Regions from separate parts of the Homo sapiens genome. Here region 2 is linked to region 1. Evidence: fine-mapped expression QTL. A gene starts in region 1. The other region holds a variant in brackets. All regions are shown on one strand. Distances are from middle to middle. Region 1 holds the start of ATG4C (autophagy related 4C cysteine peptidase). Region 2 overlaps ATG4C (autophagy related 4C cysteine peptidase).

The links. PIP is the estimated chance that this variant, and not a neighbour inherited with it, causes the effect.
Region 2: its variant is fine-mapped to the expression of ATG4C in whole blood (TOPMed, PIP above 0.99).

The regions. Positions count from the first base shown.
Region 1 is chr1:62,779,587-62,791,927 of GRCh38, forward strand. It overlaps ATG4C (autophagy related 4C cysteine peptidase), which reads left to right and starts at 4,546. Exons shown (of 11, transcript NM_032852.4): 1 at 4,546-4,687. RefSeq lists enhancers at 4,247-4,296, 4,397-4,456, 4,577-4,756 and a silencer at 4,732-5,026.
Region 2 is chr1:62,829,057-62,841,397 of GRCh38, forward strand. ATG4C (autophagy related 4C cysteine peptidase) reads left to right here. Exons shown (of 11, transcript NM_032852.4): 7 at 1-120; 8 at 4,982-5,060; 9 at 5,720-5,796. Among named protein-coding and RNA genes, the nearest start is that of ATG4C, 51 kb to the left of the region's middle. The variant TTG/T (reference allele first, on the strand shown) is at 5,002.

The sequences.
Region 1 (12,341 bases):
CCAGCATAGGTGTGGGTGTTCAGTAAATACTAGCTGCTGTGAAGAGATCCCATGCTGCATGTCAAGGCTAAGGTTTACTTTGTAGCACTTGATGAAGTGTGGTTATGAAAGGAAAAAGAGAAGATAGAATAGACCAGACCGAGTGCAGTGGCTCACGCCTGTAATCCCAGCACTTTGGGAGGCTGAGGTGGGAGGATCTCTTGAGCCCAGCAGTTTGAGACCAGCCTGGCCAATGTGGGGAAACCCCATCTCTACAAAAAAATTCAAAAAGTTAGCCGGATTTGGTGGCATGTACCTGTAGTCCCAGCTACTCAGGAGGCTGAGGTGGGAGAATCACCTGAGCCTGGAAAGTCGAGGCTGCAGTGAGCTGTGATCGTACCACTGCACTCTAGCCTGGGCATTGGGAGTGACTGCATTTAGCAGGAAAGCTGAGTCCACTGAAGGTGCTTTCACAATTATGGTGATTCTGTGCACATTTGTTTGTTGAAGTAAAGGGAGCATAGTTGAGAGAGAGAGAAAGAGGTTGAAGATATAAGAGAGGGGATAGAAATAAGATTACTTGGAAAAGAGGAAAGGTTTTCACCAAGTTTTCTTTTTTCTAATTTTTTTTGTTTGAGATGGAGTCTCACTCTGTCACCCAGGCTGGAGTGCAGTGGCGCGATCTCGGCTCACTGCAAGCTCCGCCTCCCGGGTTCTTTAAAATAATTTTTTAGCCTTTAGAAGTCTACAAGGTATTCATTCCATCCAGGCTGAGTTCAATGTCGCTTAACATAACATTCCCAATGAATCATTCATGGTATACATTTATTTAATAGAATCTTCATCTTTTCCTGGTCCAGGAAGGAGATGGATAAGAAATACACTTGATAGAAGTTAAGAAGTAAAAGTGTCCTAACAAAAATCTGGAGCTGCCTCACAATCAATGCTATTAGAATGGTTGGTATACTTTCAAAGTATATGCCTGGAATACGATGACATTTTAGAAAGGGCTTGACTCTTAAGATAAATGTTACCTATATATTATAAATGTGTTTTTTATATATAAGTACACACACACACACACGTATACACAAGTACGCACACACATATACTAAGCAGTGTGTGTGTGTGTGTGTGTATGTAAATTGTTGCTTTCATGATTATTGAATGTGACATTCTGATTATTCTGGTTTTAATAGTTATTTTATTATACAACCTGAATTACTAATTAAAAAAATAAAGCACAAGAGTTAGAAACAGCTTACATTAAAACTACGCAGTATTCATGAAAAGGCAGTTTCGGGGCCTCGGTCATCACTGTGAATTTTTTTTTTTTTTGAGACAGAGTCATGCTCTGTCGCCCAGGCTGGAGTGCAGTGGTGTAATCTTGGATCACTGCAACCTCTGCCTCCCGGGTTCAAGCAATTCCCCTGCCTCAGTCTCCCGAGTAGCTGGGACTACAGGCGCACGCCACCACGCCTGGCTAATTTTTCTTGTATTTTTAGTAGAGACGGAGTTTCACCATGTTGTCCAGGCTGGTCTTGAACTCCTGATCTCAAGTGATCCACCCGCCTTGGACTCCCAAAGTACTGAGGTTACAGGCATGAGCTACTGCACCCAGCCTAGTCATCACTGTGAACTTCCACAAACACTCATTGAGAGCCAGTTACTCTGCACAAAGTACTGTGCATAGAGCTGGGAGGGGCACAGATGTTTAAGATGCGGATCCTGCCTTTAAGAAGGTATATTAGCTATTATAAGTTTCAATTAACCAAATGTGTGATGATTATTAAAAGTCAGTGTTACACATATTTACTTTGTTTTCTATTCTGATAAAGCTCATGTATGCTTTTAATTTCCCTTTAAATCTTAACTAATTTCCAAAACTATCAGTGTTTCATAAACAGCTTATAGTGCCCAGACAGAGAGCCTTGCCCTTAGTAGCACTCATCCTATTTTTGTTGAACTAAAACGAACAGCTTCTTCAGTTTTAACTCTTGCATGGTTGGCAATTGGCTGAATTGGAATGTGAAGACACATTTAGAGGAGAGAATGTTCTGTCTGAGTGCTGCAGCTGTAAGAATCTCTTCAAAAAACATAAAGTCTATTACATAAATTATGTACTCTTTAAACTCCCATGTTCATTTACACAATTGATCATGGAAACGACTTTAGAAATATGTGTATCAAATATTTAGCATATTTTTAAAGCTTCCTTAATAACATCACTAATAAGTGGATGCAATTTTGTGTTTATTTACGGCAAACACCTATGAATATCAGATAACCTAATTATAGTTTATCAACATTACCTTTGAATCATTCCAATGGAAATGTCCTCTCTCACTGCATTCATATTGTTTTGGTGCATGAGCATGGAAAACAGCAGATTATTTTCCATGATCATAGATTTTAAATATTTACTTGCTAGCGCTGCATAATTTAACGCACTAGAGTTGGAAAGCAGTTTGTATGACAGCTGATGCCATGTCAGTGTTGCAGAATATAGTTTCCTCCTGTGATTTCTGTGTGAAGTTGTAAAAAGGAAAGGTACTCTACTCCTTTTTTTCTAACCAATTAAAATTTGTTGTGGCAAATCTACAGAAAACCCAAGTCTGTAGTATACACACAATTTACTTTTGTATATATAGTTATTTTAAGAATCCAAGCATTGTTTCTCATGGCCTGTTAATGCACAATACCAAAAATAAAATACATGCATTCTTGTAATCCAGGTCTTTATGAAAGTTACAAAAAGGCATCTAAACAGCTTGTTAGATGCATGCTCTCTCTCCTAAAAAAAATCAAAACAGAGTTTGGGGATTTCGAAACAGGAAACCACAAGCTATGGAATCATGCAAGAAAACTACTTTGCTCACTCTAATAAGTGTGCCATTTGTGATCTTATCATATCCTTTGTTTGTTGTTTTGTTATTTAGCTGTCCAAGTACATGAATAAAAAATAAATAGATCCAGCTACCTGTTTCTGTGAGAATAAAAAAAAATTTAAACCACCAAATCCACTAAAAAATTGAAAAAATTTCAAGTTTAATTTTGAACTTTTCAACTCTTCATTCTTGAAGGTTTTCATTCCCATGTGGTTTCATAGTCCGGTGGCATAGACTTCATATTTTATTTTTAGTTTTTAGTATAATTTCCTATGTAATTCAGAAGCATGTCTGGTAGTCCTTGCTCCAACAAAATCTGCGGTACTGTAAAACGGCATAGGATTACATTTTACAGTAACAGTATTTCTCTTGACATCATTTAGGAGTGAAGATAAAAATTTCCACTTATTTATTTATTTATTTATTTATTTTTACTTTTTTGAGACAGGGTCTTGCTCTGTCGCCCAGGCTGGAGTGCAGAGGCACAATCTTGGCTCACTGAAAACTCCGCCTCCCGAGTTCAAGCGATTCTCCCGCCTCAGCCTCCTGAGTAGTTGGGACTACAGGCGCGCGCCACCGCACCCGGCTAATTTTTTATATTTTTAGTAGAGACGGGATTTCACCATGTTGGCCAGGCTGGTCTGGAACTCCTGGGCTCAAGTGATCCGCCCGCCTCGGCCTCCCAAAATGCTGGGATTACAGGCGTCAGCCGCCGCGCCTGGCCAAAAATTTCCACGTTATAAAAAGCATCTTCGGACCGTCCTTTTTTCTTTCTTTCTTTTTCTTTTCCTTCTTTTTTTTTTTTTTTTCCCCACAAAGCCTCGCTCTGTCGCCCAGGCTGGAGTGCAGTGGCGCGATCTCTGCTCACTGCAACCTTTGCCTCCCGGGTTCAAGCAATTCTCCTGCCTCAGGCTCCCGAGTAGCTGGAATTACAGGCGCCCGCCGCCACGCCCGGCTAATTTTTTAATTTTTTAACAGAGACGGGCTTTCACCATGTTGGCCAGGTTGGTCTCGAACTCCCAACCTCAAGCGATCCACCCGCCTCGGCCTCCCAAAGTGCTGGGATTACAGACGCGAACCACCGCGCCCGACTGTCCTGTGTTTTAATGCTTGAAAATAATCTGAATATGGAAAATGAGTGCACATATCCCTTGATGTTTTATAAATAACCTACAGTCCTAATAATGGCTTGGCTTAGAGTTCCTTCACAACAGGAAAAGAAGGCATCCTGGCTTTTTTTTTTTTTTTTTTTTTAAATCAAAGTGAGGCTTGGGTTGGCTCTATCTTGGTCCTGAGTGCGAGGAAGGAGGGCCGCAATGCATGCTGGATCTTGCAGTTCCTACGCCAGAGGCAAGGGCGTGATGCTGCATGGCCTGCTGGTAGTTGAAGTCCAAGTGCTCGAGAGGAATTTATGGCAGCCGTAATGTGGTTTGTCTATCAGAGAGACAATGCTCACAGACGGATACTTTCTCTTGGTTCTGCGCTTGCTGCATTGGTGGATTAGCGGCTTGGGGTGGCGAACAGGTGGGAAAAAGGGATGGATAAAGTAAGCATAGCAGAGGCCTTTACGCCGCTGCTATCGCTACTGCCAATCGCAAGGCTTTCGTATCCCGGAAGTGGCTGATCTGTTGGATTTGACGCGGAGGCGGTTCCTCTTACTACGGTGGCCGGGGTGCTCAAAGTACCTGTAGCTGCGGCGCTGAGGTCGGAACGTCTGCGTGTGTGCGGGCTGGTTTTGTGGCGGCTGCTGCTAGAGCTGGAGCATTTGCCGGGTTGGTGGCTCCTGCACATTTTTACAGTTCTCCAGTCCTTCTCTTTCGGTGAGGGATCGGCTTGAGGCTAAAGGAGTCAAGAAGTTTGGGACTTAGCGTCTCTGGTCCCCGAATGACTGGGTTTCTTGCGGGGGTCCGCCTTCAGTGAAGACCCTGTGGCCAACCATCTGGGTTCTCTGAGGGTTTTGGCGCCTTCCTTGTCTCTCCTTTCTAGTGTCATTTGTCTTCTAACTCTTCCTCGCTTTGTCCTGGGTTGCAGAGATAAACCGTAAGCCTAACTGTGGGCAGCTGTTCCTCCTTTCCTTGTGGTTTTCTTAGATGTTGCAGGCAAGACTCTTTCCCCTGATCTATCGCATCCATTTGACCCCTCCTCATGCCAGTGCTCTGTCGGCCCTGTTTTTCCTCGTTTAAAAAATAAAAAAAGGGAAATAATAATAATAACTGGATCCCCACTGTCTCTCTGTTCTCATTCCTAGCCTCTTTCTCCCTTTTTGGTGTTTGTTACTGCTTCAAGCCATAACACACTGCCTTGCATATATTAATGCCTTTCCATCTAAATATTAACGTTCATTCACTTCATTTGGTTCCCGCTCACCGTGAACTCTCCCAACCCTACCCACATCTAAGGGCTTTTGAGGTTGGAGGTGTAGAATAAATTCTTACATATGATGACTATATTCATATATGAGAACCTTCAGCGGTCAACTCAGCATCACTGCTTATTGAGTTTATATTTCTTGTGATTTCTTTGGCTTACCTTTTCGTTTTGTATTGGTTATTTACCCACATGGGGCTCACTGCTACCCTATAGTTACAGAAGAATACCTCGTCTTACATCTTTTTATATCCGAATTACTTAGGAGTTTTCTTATGTTTTCCTGCTCGGACCATATGTCCCCGGTGGGTTTTTGGCAATGATTTTGTGTCAGTTGATGGCAGAAAGAGACAAGGGAATGATCTTCTTGCTTGCTTGTGACTTGTAATTAGATTATGAGCCATTGAGAATACCCAGAGGGAGTGGAAAGGCTTTGAAAGGTAAAGTCTATGTATTTTCTGAGTTTCAAATTGATAAAGCTTCTTCTTTGAACAGGAAGAGTTTCTATTTAGTCCAATAATCTGAGGCTATATTGAATTACCAGTTCATTCGCTATAAAATTTTTAGAACCACATGTCAAAAAGTGGCCCATCTAAAGAATTGTATAATTTAGCAAAAAGTCATTAAAAGCCATTTAATTAATGCTCTTTTTCTTTAAAATAGGATTCAAGTATTTGGAAAAATGTATTTATGGTGATTGGTTATGAAGTATTTCTAGATGTTTTGATGGTTCTGGTGAACAGCATCGTATTCTGTTCACTAATGTTTTATAAAAAGGCAGAAATTTTCTGGCTTTCTGGGGAACCACGTAACTCAAATGAGTTTGCAGCTCGTTTTCTATTCCAATTATTGCACTAAAGAGGTTCTTATACTAAGATTATCATTCTTTTTTAAGCTATCAAGTATGATCTATACATGTCAGTAAAATATAAATATTAATACTGGTACAATGTTAAATTGGGATTATTCCTAATTAATGCACAAAATGCTGAAATGGTTTCAGCCATGCTTAAGATTTGGGGCGAAATATATTTCAGAATAAATTTACTCATATAATTTTTTATTGAAAAAAATGATACGGTAGCCATTACTCAATCTTTTAATATTTTTCCTGAGATTTTATTCATTTAGTAGGAATTTAGTGACTACTTACTATTTAACTATTGTCACAAAATCACCAAAACATTTGTTTGTAAGAGTATCCTCTTGTCCTCAGCTCTGCATAGATACTTTTAAAGCATTAGCGCAGTTATTCCAACTAAGCTATTGAGTATTATTTACATTTAACAGATGAAAAAACTGAAGCTTGAAGAATTTAAGGAAATTAATTCAGTTCTTTTCGACTCTTCCCACTGTACAACAGCTGCAAGGATCTGTGCTCTATCCTGAAATATATAAAGAGCGTTAAATCAACATATGCTTACTGAGCAGCTATTCATACCAGACACTCTTCAAGGTGCTGGGGATATAGAGTGAACAAGAAAAGTCCCTGCTCTTAGGGAGCTTATACTCTAGCAGAATGTATGAGATGTAAACTTTCCCTTCAAGAAGCAGAAAATATAGTCAATATGTATTAGATTTTACGGGAGTGTTTTAGAATGTTAAAGGTGAGAAGAGAGATAACTAGGGAATGTTTCATGAAGATGAGATCTAATGTGGAATTTAAATAGTGGTTAGGGATTGGTAGGTAGAAATTAGGACCCTGTCTCAAAAAAAAAAAAAACAAGTGAAAATCTGTGATATAGAATAATTGGTGAGCCTTATAAAGCACTTTATTTTTATTTTTTGGACTATATATAAGTAAAATTGTAATATTTGACATGCATTCAATCATTTAGCATTTATTTATTAACTAGACACTCTTCTAGGCCACAGTGGTATAGTAGTGAGTAAATACGGTGTTTACCCTCATAGAATTTACTAACAGAGGAGGCAGACATAAATCAAATAGTCAAAGAAATTTAAAGTTACAACTGTGGTAAATGCTATTAAAAAAGGACTTGATGTTACACAGAGGAAGAACTGATTACAGAGGGGATAAGAGTGGGGATGGGGAGAGGCCAGTTAGAAGATTGTTGGAGTGGCCCAATTGAGAGATGGTATTTTGGACAAGGTGGTGGTGGTAAGATGGATTCCAGAGGTGTTCAGGAGGTGGAACTAGGCGATGGATTAGATATGGAAGGTGAGGGAGAGGAAGATATCATGGGCTAATCTTAGGTTTTTGGCTTATATAACTGGAAGGATTGTTGCACCCTTCACCGAGGTAGAGAACATCGAAAGAGGACCAGGTTTGGGAAACATGCTTTGTTTATTAGTATTTTTTGTTGTGGTAGCAGTGTTTAAGGTTAATTTCTTAGTTATTTTTACCCTTTTGTGTCATTGTTGTAGTTTTGTATATTTGAGTAATACTATGCCTAAAATAGGTTTTTTTGGTATCATTTTTTCTTGATTGAGCAGGGGTGGGGTTCTACATGAAAGCATCTGGAAATATGTTGGTCTCTGTTTTGAATCTATCTGTAATATATTAAACCATGTATATGAATAGGTAACTGAATAATGCAGTTACATGCCATCTTTATTTTCACTTGAGATTTGGTAGTAAACTGGCATCTGGTTAAATTCTAACTTCATTCATTTGGTACATACATAAATATACATGCATTAGGGAAAAATACATACTTGTGATTTTTCTCTGAAATGCTTCATTCATGTAATTTTTGATAGATATTGAACCCAAACAGTAGTGATTTATAGTTTATTGTTTAAATTTTACATTTCTTAGTAAAGTGGTAGAGTGTATAGAGCAAAGAGACTTTGGTGTCAGACTGCCTGGATTCATGGTCTCTATTTGCTGTATACTAGCAGTATGACCTTGAAGAAGTTATACAGCTTTTCCAAGCCTTTTTTTTTTTAAATTTATAAGATGAGGATAATAATAGTGCCAGCCTTATAGAATTGTTGTGAGAATTAAATGAAATGATATATATACATAGGTTAATAAAATACTTGGTACAGATTTTAAGTGTTTATTATCATTATTATAATAGTGATACTGGGTTCAAGATCATCTTGACTCCTGTGACACCATTTTAATTTTAGGATACCTTGTAACTAATAAAACTCAATTTGAGAAAAAAAATTTATTTGGTATTTAGATTTGGAGAAAATATATAAAATAGTTTTGCTTATTCACTATTGTCCCAGATACACCAGCACATAACATCTTTCACAGAGTTCTGAGATTATGTGTAGTTTACAGCTGTGATAGAAAACTTATGGTGATTAGTTTGTGATTACTTATTGTTTGTTAGGATTATTACCTTTATTTTTAGCCAAACCTTTTCGAAGTTTGAACTTGCTTTTAGCTCTTATTGAATAGGGTGAAGAGTAGTTAGGCTTTATGAAGTCTGATCAGCTGCTCTAAAATCAACCTAACTTCTACTTTTTCCCTTATTTTTTTCTTTTTACTTTCAAACCTGTAAAAACATTGAAATGGTAGTATGACAAATACCTGTACATCCTTTTACCTAGATTCACTAGTTGTTAACATAGTGCCTCTTTTGCTCTCATTCCTTGCTGTTAGACAAGTGCTGTTTCTCTCTCTATAAATACACACACACACACACACACACACACACACCTTTTTTTCTTGCTGAACTATTTGAAAGTAAGGTGGCAACGTGACACTTTACCCCCAAATAATTCATCATGCATCTCCTAAGAACTAGCACATTCTCTTATATAACTATAATGCCATTAGCATATCCAAATAATTTAACCTTGATATGATAATATTGTCTAATATGCAGTCCATATTCAACAATTAGATTTTTCCAAATATCCCAGTAATGTCATTATACCATTACAAAAATACCGAATCCAATTAAAGACATTAATTGTATTTAGTACTTATATGTCTATTTTATCTAGAACAGTCTTTATCATTTCTTTCTTTTTTTGTCTTCAGGTAGAATGCCTCACAAAATTGATTTATCTGATTTTTTCCTCACAATGAGTTTCAGATTGAAGAGTTGTGGGTTTTTCTTTTTTTTTCTTTTTTCTTTTTTTTACTATTACATGGGTGATGTTTTGAACTTTCCATTTAATCATATTAGGATTAACATGATCGTTTATTCCATTATTGGTGATTAAGTTTGATCACTTAGTTTAGCCAGATTTTTATATTCCGAAAGTATGTTTTCCCTTTTGTATTTAGTAATCTGTAGGGGTGATAAATTGAGGTCATGTGGATATTCTGTTTTGCAGGTTTTGTTTTCCTATCCAGTGATTTTAGTAGCCATTGATAAAAGCATTGGTGGTTGCCAAATAGTGATTTCCCACTTCTGTCATTCCTACATGTATTTGCTGGCTCTCTTCTCTAAATAAGAGCTTTCTCTTTTTTATTTTAGTATCACTATGTACCCAAGTATCCTTTTTTTCAAAATCTATGCAGTGCGTTATAATTTGCTACCATCATTCCTTTTGGTGATGAAATTATCTCAAATCTGGTCAGTAGTAGATCCTTCAAGCTGGTTCCCATGAACTTTGGATATGTCCACATTGGTGTTTGAGCACTTTCTTACTCCTATTTGCACAATAAGATGTTCCAGCCTCACCTTGTAAATTTCCTGCTCAATACATGGAATCAGCCATTTTACCACAGAGTCCTGGTTTATTTTAGTGGAAAATGATTCTTAGAAACCAAGATCTGGGCCGGGCGTGGTGGCTCATGCCTGTAATCCCAGCACTTTGGGAGGCCGAGGCGGGTGGATCATGAGGTCAGGAGATCGGGACCATCCTGGCTAACACGGTGAAACCCCATCTCTACTAAAAAATAAAAAAACAAATGAGCCGGGCGTGGTGGCGGGCGCCTGTAGTCCCAGTTACTAGGGAGGCTGAGGCAGGAGAATGGCGTAAACCCGGGAGGCGGAGCTTGGAGTGATCCGAGTTCGCGCCACTGCACTCCAGCCTGGGCGACAGAGCGAGACTCCGTCTCAAAAAAAAAGAAATAAAAGAAATGAAGATCTGGGTATTGAATATGCTCTTTGCTACTGGGGTGTCATTGGTTCTAGACCCTTTAAATGGACACACATATACACTTTTTTTTTTTTTGAGACAGTGTCTTGCTCTTGTTGCCCAGGCTGGAGTGCAATGGCGGATCTTGGCTCACCGCAACCTCTGCCTCCTGGGTTCAAGCGATTCTCCTGCCTCAGCCTCCCGAGTAGCTGGGATCACAGATATGTGCCACCACACCCAGCTAGTTTTGTATTTTTAGTAGAGACAGAGTTTCTCCATGTTTGTCAGGCTGGTCTCGAACTCCGGACCTCCGGTAATCCACCCGCCTCGGCCTCCCAAAGTGCTGGGATTACAGGCGTGAGCCACTGTACCCGGCCAACATATACATTTTTTAAGAAATCATGAGTTCATAGGATACCTTCAATTCAAATTCAACACTGCAGAGTTCTCATCACTTCCTTCCAATTCCTGTTTATATCTCTGTTTTCCCAAAGAGAGAATTCTGATTCTCAATTATATCACTATTTTTACTCATCTAACCTATCCTACAACACACATAAAATAGTTTTGGAATTACTAGACTGACTGATACCGCTTCCAGCAACAGATTTACCAAGTAAAGATTTCTTTGCCATTTTATGTTCTTAGAATATATCCCACTAAAGGTATATATAGTCAAAATAGGTGTTCAAAGTTATTTGAATTATTTTTTCTGTGTGATTATGTTATGAATGTAAAATATAGTTAGGTTCCTACTAAATTACTTTTTAATATACTCTTTGTAAAATCAGTTATCTGTAAAACTACTAAAGTGACATAATTTAAAACTTTGTAATATATAGTTATAGAGAACTCTAGAACAGTTATATCAGCTGGAGAATATTAAGTTTTAAGACTTGTAAGCTCTAAACTTGTAGCTCTATTTTTTCAGTTATAATGATATTTAAAATTAGGAGTGCAAGAAAAGTGACATCAAGTGATTCCATTTGTAAACCAAAACAATTGTGTTTGTGAACATTTTAAACAATGCTCTTCTTTTAACTGATGATACAATTCAAGCATTAATCTTTAACAATAGACATAATTGTTGGGGGTACTTTAACTAATTCCCAAGTAATAGGTCTAATGTTTTCCTGTATTTATAACCAGAATGGAAAGATTTATGTTTTTTGTTAAGTCCTTCTTTGTATTTGAAGAATACTTGTTGTGACTGTATTTTACCCTGTGATATTATTCATGTGTGAATATTCTCATTGGAAAGGGGGAAAATATGTCTCTTAATAGTTATGATACTTTATATCTCTATTGTGAGATATAACCACATTCAGCCTTATGGTTAGTTATAACCATTTTGCTTATTAGAATGTAAGATTAATGAGGGCAGATACTGGGTTTCATGGCTCATTGTATCTCCCTCAGTGCCTTGTAGGAGTAACCACTCAAATACTTGATGAATAAATGTGATATTTTGTGTTTAAATTACATGTAGTACTAGCTTCAGTAATATGGATGCACCTTTTTCTTGGCAAGAGTAACTAATATAATGGGTCTTGGAAATGGTCTTATCCATTGTCGTAGTCTGTCTTTCATTGCTTATAACAGAATAACTGAAACTGGGTAATTTATGTAAAAAAGGAATTTATTCCTTATAGTTAACAAAAGCTGAAAAGTCCAAGGTTGAGGAGCTACATTTGGTGAGGGCCTTCTTGCTGGTGGGGATTCTGCAGAGTCCTGAGGTGGTGCAGGGCATCACATGGTGAAGGAGCTAAACACACTAGCTCCAGTCTCACTTTCTCTTCTTGTAAAGCCACCAGTTCCACTCCTCTGATAACCTGTTAATCCATTAATCCATGAGTGAATTAATTTATTTATGAGGGCAGAACCCCAGTTACCCAGTCATCTCTTAAAGGCACCATGATAACATTCATATTTACTTATTACATACCTCAAAATCACTGTATCTTAAACTGAATTTCCTATCTTCACCTTAGTCTTCTCTACTTGGGTTCCCTGTTTCAGCTAATGGAACCATTATGCTCCTAGACATTAGACCTGAAATCTCATAGTCACTTTAGTCTCCTCTCTGGTATG
Region 2 (12,341 bases), 49 kb after region 1:
ATTGATAAACAGAGTGCTTCCATGACTTCTGATAATGCAGATGACAAAGCTGTTATTATTCTAGTTCCTGTTAGACTTGGTGGAGAAAGAACCAACACCGACTACTTAGAATTTGTGAAGGTATGAAATAAGTGCTGAACTTTTTTAGGGCAATACTAGCTAATATGAAAAATATAGAAGGTTTGCAATTTTTTTCTGTTAAATGAGTAGTGATGATTTTGTAGTTGTACGTTGTACGTTGTAAAGTTTGACATTAGAGATTTTAAATTTTGGTATTATAAGACCAATGTGAGTTGAAGAGCACAGTGTTCTATAACAAAATGAAAAGCCTTTTAATCTTTGTAGCTAATCAGGGAGACACAGATGCAGCAATAATCATAACCTGTAATATAGTTACAGTTTCATTATTCTTATTTGTAATTTTAAGTATATATCTTTATTCATAAAACTAGCATTAAACTACATCACATTAATTATTGAAAAAACTCTCTATTACTGCTATGTTATCTCATAATATGTTTCCTGTGACACCATGATGTCAATAAGAGATGAGATTATTTCTATAGCTAGAAATAATGAAGATATGAAGATAGTATTTGGAGGAATTCCAACTTTGTTTTTTTCATCTTAACCAGTTAAAAATCGGTTCTTTCTTGGAGCACATTGTTTGGTTTCTTGCTTCAAAAGAACCTGTGTAGTTATGGTATCTTGTTTTGGGCACCAAGACATTCACATATGATAAAATACCTTGGAAATAGTTTCTGATTAAGGCAGAAGTTTTTAGTTTATTTTCATAGTTTCAATAAAATTCTTCATTTTTTAGTAGTCTCTTTTTGCAGCAATAGTTGGAATTCTTCTTTAAATGGAGTGTTATGGGATATAGTAATGTTGAAATAAAGTCTGAATCTATCTTTTATGATTAATAACTATTTGTTCCCTCCATGAGGCATCCCATGTTATAGTCTCTATATATTTAGTTGGAACATCTATTCTCAGGGTAGATTGTGCTAATTCTAGAAATCTAGAGCAGTTGTTTTTAACATATGATATACATGGAAGTTTTTTAGCTGGTATACTGGCTTTTCTTAATAGTTACTAAAATTTTGGAAGCACATTTGTTACTAAGAGTAACAATACTGTAATATATCAATGACATATTAATCTTCCAAATAAAGGTAAGGTTTTGATGTCTGACATGTATCTTTAGTAGGGTTATTGGTGCAGTATGAGAAGCTGTGAACCACTTCATCTAGAGAATCTGTTGAGGGTTTTGAGACTTCTGACATGTTGTCATCTCTAGGTGGGTTCTAATCAAATCTGAACTGGATTCTTTTTTGCCTTCTCTACTACCATGAGAAGATTAGAAACTGATGCAGTCTTGGAACTGATTCCTTTAGCCAAAGCTTCATTCCTGGTGGAATGGGTTGCAAATGGCTTCAGGCATGTTTCATCTGGCTGAGGACTTTGCTATTTGGTGGTATTGATAGTATTCATTAGATGGTCTCACTGCCTAATGCTCTTGAGTGATTCATGGTTAATAGCTTGACCATGGTTTGTAGTGAAATGTAGCATCCTGCTACATTGTATGAGGAGAAGGAAATTTGATGTGTGTTTTATTGGTCCTTACCACAGGAGGTTTATTTATTTATATTTTTTTAAGGACCTGGAATGAGGAAAATCCAGTATGTTCTTTTTCTTCAGCAAGACAAATTAGGACTTTTCTTTTTGTAGTGAAATGAACTATGGTTAAGCTGTTAAAGTGAAGCCTCAGTATCTAACATATAGGAGTTACTCAATACATATTTGTTAACCCTAATTTGTATAATACTTTTCAATGTAAATTTATCTCATTTTGCCCTCACAGTAGCTAGGAACTGGATTGTCTTTATGAAACAGAAAAGACATAGAGAAGTCAAGTGATATATCCAAATTCAGATAGCAAACTGGTAGCAGAGACTAGACTTTTCTTGACTGTAAGTTTGTTTTTCATGGTTTTCTCTAAAACATGAACTTTTTGAAAGGTAACATTTTCTCGAGCTTTTACTAACTTGATTTACACCGTAGTCCACTACAGTGGGAGAGCAGTGACTATTGAAACATTTTGATTTTCCAGTTAGGTAAAAATGGCTGAAATGGTTAAGTGGAGTAGGTTATATGATAGGTATTATGTTTGGCCAGAGGGGATGGTTGAGTCAAACCCCAATGAGAGCATGTAAAGAGGTATTCACTTAGAAGTGAAAAGGTAGTGTGTTCATTAGCCCTAAAAGAAAAATAATTTTTTCCTTTTTTTCATGTATGGTCAGCCGTTGTATTTTTTCCTGCCAAACCAATGTGCGTTGGTGAGTCTAAAATGTACTGTTCAGTTCTATTTTTCAAATTTATTAAACAAGGTATTTCAGAGATAGTGCCAACATAGCATCCTGCTACATTGTATGAGAAGAAGGAAATTTGTTGTGTGCTTTATTCGTCCTTACCACAGGAGGTTTATTTATGTATGTATGTATGTATTTTTAAGGACCTGGAATGAGGAAAATCCAATATGTTCTTTTTCTTCAGTGAGACAAATTAGGACTTTTTTTTTGACTGATTACTTCAGTCTTATTTATTGCTTCATGGATACAGCTCAATAAATTTTCACCACTAGAAAAATAACTGTAAAGAAGCTCTTTTAGGAACTGAAAAGTGTTTCAATCCAAAGATACAGCCTCTTACATGTAAAGGCATTCTAGCTCCTAATCTGCTTCTAAGCGTTTATTACTAAACTTGCTCTAATGCGTTGCAAGGGAAATACAGATGTCAAGAACCAAAGTCTTTCTTCCGTTACTTAGAACCATTCATTTTCTGAGGAGAGTCAGTGACAATCCTTGCTATATATTTTTTTCTTTCTTTTCTCAGTTGTAAGAGACATAGAACTTTCACTGCCTCACAGGTCTCTATGATATAAACATTGCATTTCAACTGATCAGACTGCCTCGAAGTAAGGCACTCTCTAATTGTATTAAGGATTTTTATTTAGGGGGAAAACAGTAGAATTCTTAATTGATAAGTAACTTTATTACTGTTTAGTGAGATTTTTGATACAATTTTGTCTTTATTTTTAGTTAGCTCTAAGATTTTAACCTGATATGCTTTCTCTGTTTAATTTTTTCAGTTGCAGCTCTCATTCAGTTTATCATTTCAGAAAAAACTTCATGATATTTTTACAATACTAAGAATATACAAGGTTGTTCTTTAGAGGGTGTCCGAGTCCATTTTTTGCTGCTGTAACAGAATACTGGAGACTGAGTAATTTATAGAGAACAGAAATTTATTCTCTCACAGTTCTGGAGGATGGGAAATCTAAGATCAAGGCACTGGCATCTGATGAAGGTCTCCTTGCTGCGCTCTCACATGGTGGAAGACAGAAGGGCCGAAAGAGGGCGAACTCTGTCCTCACGTGGCAGAGGAGCAGGAGAGAGAAACCATTCCTGCAAGTCCTTTTTATAGCAACATTGAGATTTTTGATACAATTTTATCTTTATTTTTAGTTAGCTCTAAGATTTTAACCTGATATTCATGCAAGCTCTGCCCTCATGACCTAAACACCTCCCCAAAGGCTCCAGCTTTCAACACTACATTGGGGATTAAGTTCCCACACATGAATTTTGGAGGGAATAAAAATGTTCAAACTATAGTGGAGGGTTACTTATAACAGTGAGAACTTGGAATGACTTAAATATTTATAGTGGAGGTTTTAAAGCACATTTTGTTGTCATAAAATAGAATATTTTTCAGCTACTACATATTATTAATATAGATCTCTATTTATTGATAGGAAAAGATATTCATGACATAATGAGCAACAAAAGGTTACAATGGCATGTGTTGTGAGATTTCACATATATAAAATTGTATTTGTAAATCTGTGTGTGTATGTATGTAATGTAGACAGATGTTAAGAAGGTGTTCCCCCAAATATTAATAATGATGAGCTCTGGGTGTTGGAATTTGGGAAAAGTTTCACTTTTTTCTGTATTTCCTGTATGTGTGTGTGTTCTGTATGGTTTGGTTACTTGTTAAAGGAAAAAGAACGTTTGTCCATATATTTATTTTTATATCTTAGAGATTTCAAAACATCCTCTCATTTAAGAGAAGGAAAGCTTAATTATTGTTTAATAGTTTTGGGATTTTATAACCTATACTTTATCATTATTAGTGTTTTATAGGATATATCAAAATTATTGCAGGAACTGTTGTTAAGACATTAATTGATTCCACTAGACATTTTAAACTTACTCAATTGGACATGTTTTTAAAAAGATATAGAGTTGATTTGGCCTAACTTAAATAGAGTTCTGCTTAGAATAGATTGCTGAGGGGTGTATTAAATAATTTATTGTGGTATTCCTGATATTTTATGATTAGTAAAATAAATTGGCTTTAAATGCAATAATTATTATTTTCATTGGATTAAGTTATTTTCATTACTCTTTATTTCAAATGAAGTAGCATAAAAAATTTGAGTGAATGCCATTGATTAGAAAATGGCTTTCAATTTGTGATTCTAAGACTCAAGGTTCAATGAAAACAGCAGTAAGGACTAAGAACTATCTTTAGCATTTCAAAAAGCCTGACGAAAATTTTACGTTGATCACAGTGAAGCTGCACCAGCTAACTGGAAGGCTAAGTGTATTGGCTTTGGCAGGAATTTTATTGCCTTACGGTGGTAAAATTGATTATCTCTCTATGTAGTAGTTGTTTAATGTTGTTGAGCAACACGCTGATCAAAATATTTGATTTGTCATGTTAATGTTGAGTGATTTAAAGAAAAGGAAGGCAGTTTGGAAGACAAGTGGATTTCAGAACCTGGGTGCAAATGTAATATAAATGATAACTGGTAGTGGTAAATTTGGGAGCTACTAATATTAGTAATAGAAATTTGTTTGCTTTGAATAATTACCACTTGCCTCTTGACTAAATCTGTATTAATTTTTTTTGGCAGGGTATTTTAAGCCTGGAATA[TTG/T]TGTGGGTATTATTGGTGGCAAACCTAAACAGTCATATTACTTTGCTGGATTTCAAGGTTAGTGATTTAGTAAAATATATTTCTTCATTGTTTTCTTTTAAAAGTCAGAAAGTTAATATGAGATCATCTGGAAACAGGATGATTAACAGAGCAAAACGAGTACCTTATACATTCATCAGTCCTACTATAGCCACTCATTTGTCATTTGGTCCACAACATAATTAGATTCTGTAAAATATATGTTTAATTTCTGTTACTGCATAAACAAGGCATAATTTATTGGTTGCGCTAAACTTCAGAAAACATCACTGCCACATTCTGGCAGTTGCTGTTTACATATTTACTTTTTACCAGTTTTAGTGGTGCAAGTAGATGATAAAATGACAAGCAATATGTTCTTCCTGTCAAGATAAAGAAGTGCAATACATTTTTCATATGCAAACTGTAGAATATAATTGTGTGTTTGTGAAAGCAATTTTATCACCAAAAATTAAATGACAGTCTCATCACTTTATAAAAATTCTGCTTATACAAGCATATTTGATTATGCAAAAGTTAATCTATCCTGTGCAAACCTATGTTTCAGTCAATGAATATCAGTCTGGCAAGCTGTTACTCCCAGATTTTTTTCAGCTGTTCTACATAGAAATTGGATTGTAAGCAGTGTAATAATAAGGTGTTTTTTGAATTACTTGTCTTCTGTTTTGTCCTTGTAGATGACAGTTTGATTTACATGGATCCTCATTACTGCCAATCTTTTGTAGATGTCAGCATAAAGGATTTCCCTCTTGAGGTACTGTGGATAAAAAGCTGATACTGTTTTCTTACCATATGAAGTAAACTAATTATTTAGAGATGTGCTAGGTAGCTATGCTTTTACGGTATTATAACTACTGGTTAATAATCAATATTTTACTGATCTATAGAACCATAATTAACACAGTGGTCAAAGGTTAAGTACTTTGTTGCTGAATTTTAATTTATGATATACTTTCTTCTTCATTTATCTTTGTCTCTAACTTGTTAGAAACCCTGGCCATACTAAAATAAATGATCAAGTCTCCAAGTAATTTTGTATAGAGACAGCTAAACAGTACTGAAGAATTTAAAATGTAAGGCCTGTTTAAAAAAAAAAAAAAAGAAAAATAGAAAGGGATAGACGGGTTAGAGTAACAAAGCGACTTAATGCGGTTATCTGCTAAATTATTTTGCTTTGAGTACAGTAATTAAATCTTAGCCTTTAGTTAGGAAGTTTTCAAGAGCTTAGTTGGGTTTCTAATTTTTTTTGAGCTTTTATTTCTTAACCTCTTCTTTTCCTTTATACAGGTCATTTTGTGATCCAGTATTTTAATTCAGAAAAATTTGAGAATACATAAATGAAACATGTAATTATTACATGGTTTTGATTGTTTTCCCAGTTGGTGCTTTTACAGACTAAAGTAATTTTACAGAATAAAATAACTTAAATCACTTGAGTGTCATGGATCACTAATTTTCAAGGACTTGATGAGTTGCAAATATAGCTGAATACTTTGTTTTAGTAATTGCTTGCTAGCTAATATTAACACCTAATAGTATTTAAGAGGTAGAATATGAAAATAGATAAACCACAAGGTTAAAATCTGGTTCAGAAAGATATATTATAAAACATTTTGGCATCCTTTGTAAACTATTACCTCAATTAAAGTATAAGCATCTGGAGGCCAGAGGTCAGGTCTATTTTGTTCTTTCATAGTATCTTGCACCTTAATAAATATTTGCTAGTTGACTGATTGGTACTGGGGAAGGCACTACAGAATAATTGTGCCATGTGAACTACATCGTAATTCTCTTTCTGCCTTGTGGTCTTGTAGCACTGATTCTTGTGTCCAAGTTACATTTCCAGTAGATCAGTGCCAAATTGACTCCTTATAAACAGTAGGTACTTGAGATTTAGATGGAAAATTGTTCTTAGTATTTTAGTATTACCTAAATAAGCAAATTAAAAGATTATTGGTCTGATTATTTTGGCCAGTAGAGAGAAATTATCCATCTGATATTTTGAGAGACTGCAAAGATACCAAGTGAATGAATATCCTGGCTATGTGTATACAATCAAAATTAGAAAGGCTTCAACTCATTATTGGGAGACTGTTGCAACACTCCAAGAGGGAGTTATTAATAATAAAGGTTTGAAGTAGGCTGGTGATAGTGAAAATGGAAAGGAATAATTGATTTTAAGATTTTACTGTGTAAGGTAAAATTTGTTAAAATTGACTTCTTAAATGCACAGAAACATTTCTTATATAGTGGGACACTTATAGAATGGGTTTATAGATGTTATATTTTTAAGATCCTGGTAGAATATCTTAATCTGTGTGGAAAATTCCTGTTAAAAATTTTTATTTTTCTGCAGTGAAGGGATTTATTTTAGTTATAGCATCACTTGTTTTCCTATGAAAGTATAATATAAAAATTATATCAAGTTGTAGAGGAATAAAATTTCACTTTTTGCTTTTTATCATCTTTTAAGTTTATAATACACCAATTGAAGGTGTTTTAACTACCCTGTATTACTAACCATCCTTGCTTTGCTATACTGCTTGTATATTTATAGCTAGTGAAATTATGTAGTTGATTAATGTAAAAAATTATATGCATATTCTAAAACCACCCTTATACTTCAATTATTAAAATCATTTTTATAGGGAACTTTTTGGGTCAGTATTTTTTTGGTTAATAGATGGAGAAATTGAAACCTTAAATCATCCACTGATTCCACATAAATAATTGGTGGTAGTCCTCTGATATTTTGAGTGCCCTAAATCTAATAGATTGTGAAATTTTAAGGAAGTGGGATGATATGAGAATATTTGAGATTAAAGAAGAGATTTAAACAGATTGCATTTTTTGTTGTTCTTACAGTGTTGAATTTCTACATTTCTAGAATTGAACTCTTAACATTTTGAAACCAAATCAGAGTAACTCATTTCTTTCTTTTTTAATGAGCTCTTTCTAGGTGCAAGGGACTTTCCTAAGCCCTTGAGTCCTCTGTTGAACTCTTTTCTTCTCTGTGATTCCAAGTGTTTTGATTATATACATTTCTATTAATGTTTAATTCTTGTGACATTTTCTTCTGAAATAAATTAGTATATCCTATTGAATTTCTATACTAACTTTTAAGAGACTCTTCCTCATTTTTAGCTATCTTCAGTGAGTTTTTAACACATTGTGAAGTGAACATCAGCAGTTATATTTGGATCCTAAGTCTAGTAGTGAAGATATGCCAGGGATATCTTTGGTTAGGACTGAGGAATGGAGCACATGGTTCAGTGTGAGGGCACATTATAATGTAGAAACTCACACTGTAATTTTCAAACAGAAAATGAGGTTCAGAGGAGCAGCATGAACAACCTTAAACAAAAGTCATCAAAGAACAACTTGAAATTAGAAGGGAGTGAGAAGAGACCTCAAATGGGCTTTGGCAGTGAGGGTATGTAAGAAAAGCTTTATTAATAGACATGTCAGTTTGTTCTGATTGCTGGGTCCCCAATTCCAAATGTCAAATTTTAGGAGGTTCATACAGTGGTAACTGTTTTAATCTACCTTAGGAAATTCAGAAATATTGGCAGTAAAACTATTAGAATTACGTGATGTGGGCATCTAGATTGGATGAGTGAATTCTTCAGTGAAAGATAATACCCTTTATGAATTACACATGTGAACTGCAATTAGTAGTAGGTTTTTTTTATGTTGTCTTTTGGGTGGAGGATAGGGTCTTGCTCTGTTACCACTCCAGTTGGAGCGTAGTGTGTAATCTCAGCCCACTGTAGCCTTGACCTCCTGGGCTTTAGCGATCTCTCCACCTTAGCCACTCAAGTAGTTGGGATCACAGGTGGGTGCCACCATACCCGGTTAATTATCAGTAGGTACTTTTTACTAAGGGTATTTTCTAATTAACTGTCTTAGGAAGCTTCATCTGAATCACCAAAATAGCATAGCTGTACCTATAAGCATATGTTTCAGTATGGTTTTGGTATGTTTAGGTAATTAGACTTCACTATTCTAAACAATAAGCCTAGAATAGTGCCTGTCATTTTGTAGGTGCCTAATAACTATTAGGGCAATTGGTAAACAATGTATCAAAAAATGAAATAAATGGGAATTGATTCTCTCTGGCCAGTATTTCCAGAAACACTGTTACAGAAGTGTATCTAGTGAATACTCCTTAAAGTGCGTTTGTCAAGTAGATGCTACTCCTCTTACCAATCATTAGAATTTTAAAAATTAAAAAAAATCTTAAGTGCATAGCTCAAAAATTATCACGAAGTGAACATAGCCCTGAATTAGGAAAATATTTGAAAGTTTAACTTGTTCTGCAATAGACAACGATTGTGAATTGTAAATTCATGTTGGTTGGCCTTTGAATCTTCTTGGATGAACAAAATGATATGAATGGCCAGGCATGATGGCTCCCGCCTGTAATCCCTCCACTTTGGGAGGCCAAGGCAGGTGGATCACCTGAGGTCAGGAGTTTGAGACCAGCCTGGCCAACATGGTGAAACCCCGTCTCTACTAAAAATACAAAAAAATTAGCTGGGCGTGGTGGTGCGCACCTGTAATCCCAGCTACTCGAGAGGCTGAGGCAGAGGAATTGCTTGAACCTGGGAGGCAGAGGTTGCAGTGAGCAGAGATCGCACCACTGCACTCCAGCCTGGGCGACAAGAGTGAAACTTCATCTCAAAAAAAAAAAAAAAAGTTTAAATGATATAAAATGCCTCTCTGTTGTATGAGTCCTAGTGCTCATGCCGCAATACCCAATATCAGTTTAAGTGATCAGAGATTTATATCTGTGTTTTTGTGAATATTTTAAAAGTTCTTTGTAGATATTAAAACAACCATGAATAACAATTTAGTGTTTGTTATTATCTATGATGGTTGTAGTCAGTACAGTGAGATAGTAATAAGACTATTCTGGTTTAGTATTATTGGTTCTTACATGAAAAGCCTTTTAAAATTAAAAAATTTTTATTTTCTAGAGATGGAGTTTTGTTCTGTCACCCAGGCTGGAGTGCAGTGGCACCACCATAGCTCACTGGCACCTCAAACTCCTGGGCTTACGCAATTCTCCCACCTAAGCCTCCTAAGTAGCTGGGACTATAGGTGAATGCCACCACACCTGGCTATTTAAAATTTTTTTTTAGAGGTGGGGTCTTGCCATGATGCACAAGCTGGTTTCAAACCTCAGCCCTCAAGCAATCCTCCCACCTCAGCCTTCTGAATTTCTGGGCACAGGCATGAGCCTGACTCAAGTTCTTACATGAAAACTTTTACCAGTGCTTTAGTATAATATAGAATACCCTTTGTAGATGAGTTCAAAAATATATTATTAGACCATGTACAAGCTTTTGGCCCTCCTTCTTATCCCCAACTGGTAAAAAAGTTAAGAAACATTCCTTGTGATTGTCTTTCGAATGAGCTGGGCAAATGGTTATTTGTAGATACCATGTATGTAGAATAATTTCTTATAAATATGACTTAGAACTGTGCCATATACCCTAATATACTCATATTCCTGTAAATTGTTAACTAACCAGTTTGTTTAGCTTTTCTGTGCTTTTCTAGTTCTGTTTTAAATATTTCTTTGCTAATGTAACAGGTAGATCAATGTTAGAAAAAGTCCAACTAAGATTATACTTGTATTGACTAGTGCCATGGAGGTTCCAGTTTAGCTAGGTTGAATCTCAGTATATAAAGTAAGTTAGCTAAGCATTTTGCAGAAGTCATAGTTTTGAAAACTCATATTTTGCCCTATATTGAGTGACATATTGTTGGATTTGAATCTAATATGCAGTTGAACTTTTCATTGGAAAAAAAAGCAGCTTGAATGTATATATTTTGCATATCTTTTGGTGATGATACGGGATACAAATTGGGTCACTAGGATGTACAGGGAGAGAAAGAGTGATTTTAATTGATTTCACCATGAACATAACAAATATGACAACTTATTTTTTCCACACTTTAATAGATAGCATGAAGTTAAAAATCCCTTAGTTTTAGGCATTGAATGTAGGGAAACTATAATTTTATGAGCTCAAATCCAGCTCCCCTCCCCTCCCCTCCCATTAATGGAGTTGGAGTCTTGCCCTCTTGCCCAGGCTGAAGTGTAGTGGCACGATCATATCTTACTGCAGCTTCAAAACTTCTGGGCTCAAGCAGTCCTCCTGCCTCAGGCTCCTGAATAGCTGGGATTGTACATGGGAGCCACAGCACCCAGCTCCTAGATTATTTCTTAATTGAGCTTGTTCTTTAATTCAAAAATTTCCCACACTTATCTCCCATCTGCCCAGTTCTCTCCCTTTACCACAGACTTGTTAATTTTTGTATATCCTTAGTTTATTTATATAAATATGAATATACAGTCTTATGTTCTTTTTAACACAAACTTATTTTTTCTACATACAGAAAAAGACTTGGTCACTTCAGTGATTTTTAAGGACAGGCTAAGCATTTAAGCATTAAAAAAATTTTTAAACATAGTACTAAGGTGTGATTGTGAGGAACAAAAAGATTGCAGTGATTACTTTTATATTCTGCCCTTTTTCTACTTTTGTATTCCCTAAAGATGCCAAACTCTACTAACAGCCAAATCCATTAGCAAGACAGTAGAGAAACTAGGGCAGCCTCCCCAGCCCATTTATATCTGTGGCACTGTGTCTATTGGAGAAAAGTGAACTAAAGAGACAAAAGGACTGATGAGAAAGAGGGCAGGGACCATAATGGAATGGTTTCACCTGTTCCAGCCTGTTCCCTGAGAAGAAACAAGAATTAAAGCACACTCAAAGAGAAAGTTGAAGAATACGCAGTTATGTACTAATTGTGTGAATTGCTAAAACCCTCAAGTTGACCTCTTTTTATGTCAATATAGAACATTTACCTGAGTCTGTGTATTTGTTTAAAAAGTCTCGATATCCTTGTTAAAAGGTTTATAAACATTAACCCAAAATCTCCAACAAAACAGACTTAACTGCATTTTAATAGAAATGGCTAACTTGATTCTAAGCCTCATACTTTTTTCATGTCTTTTTCATGTTTTCAAGTGTTAGAAATGCATACCACTTTTGACACACTTCCTTTCTTTTGCAGAATGGCACTAATATCACAAAAGGTTGAAATTTGGTGAATTAAATATATAAAAATGTTGGCTCTTATATTTTACAGTTTTGCAGAGTGGAGAGGACCATCTGCGTAGGATGAACTAAAACACCATTTGAAAATCATGTTTATAGTGATGGGAAAAAGCTAGATAGAAAATTTTAAATAATAGTTTTATATATACTTGTCTATCAAAGATAA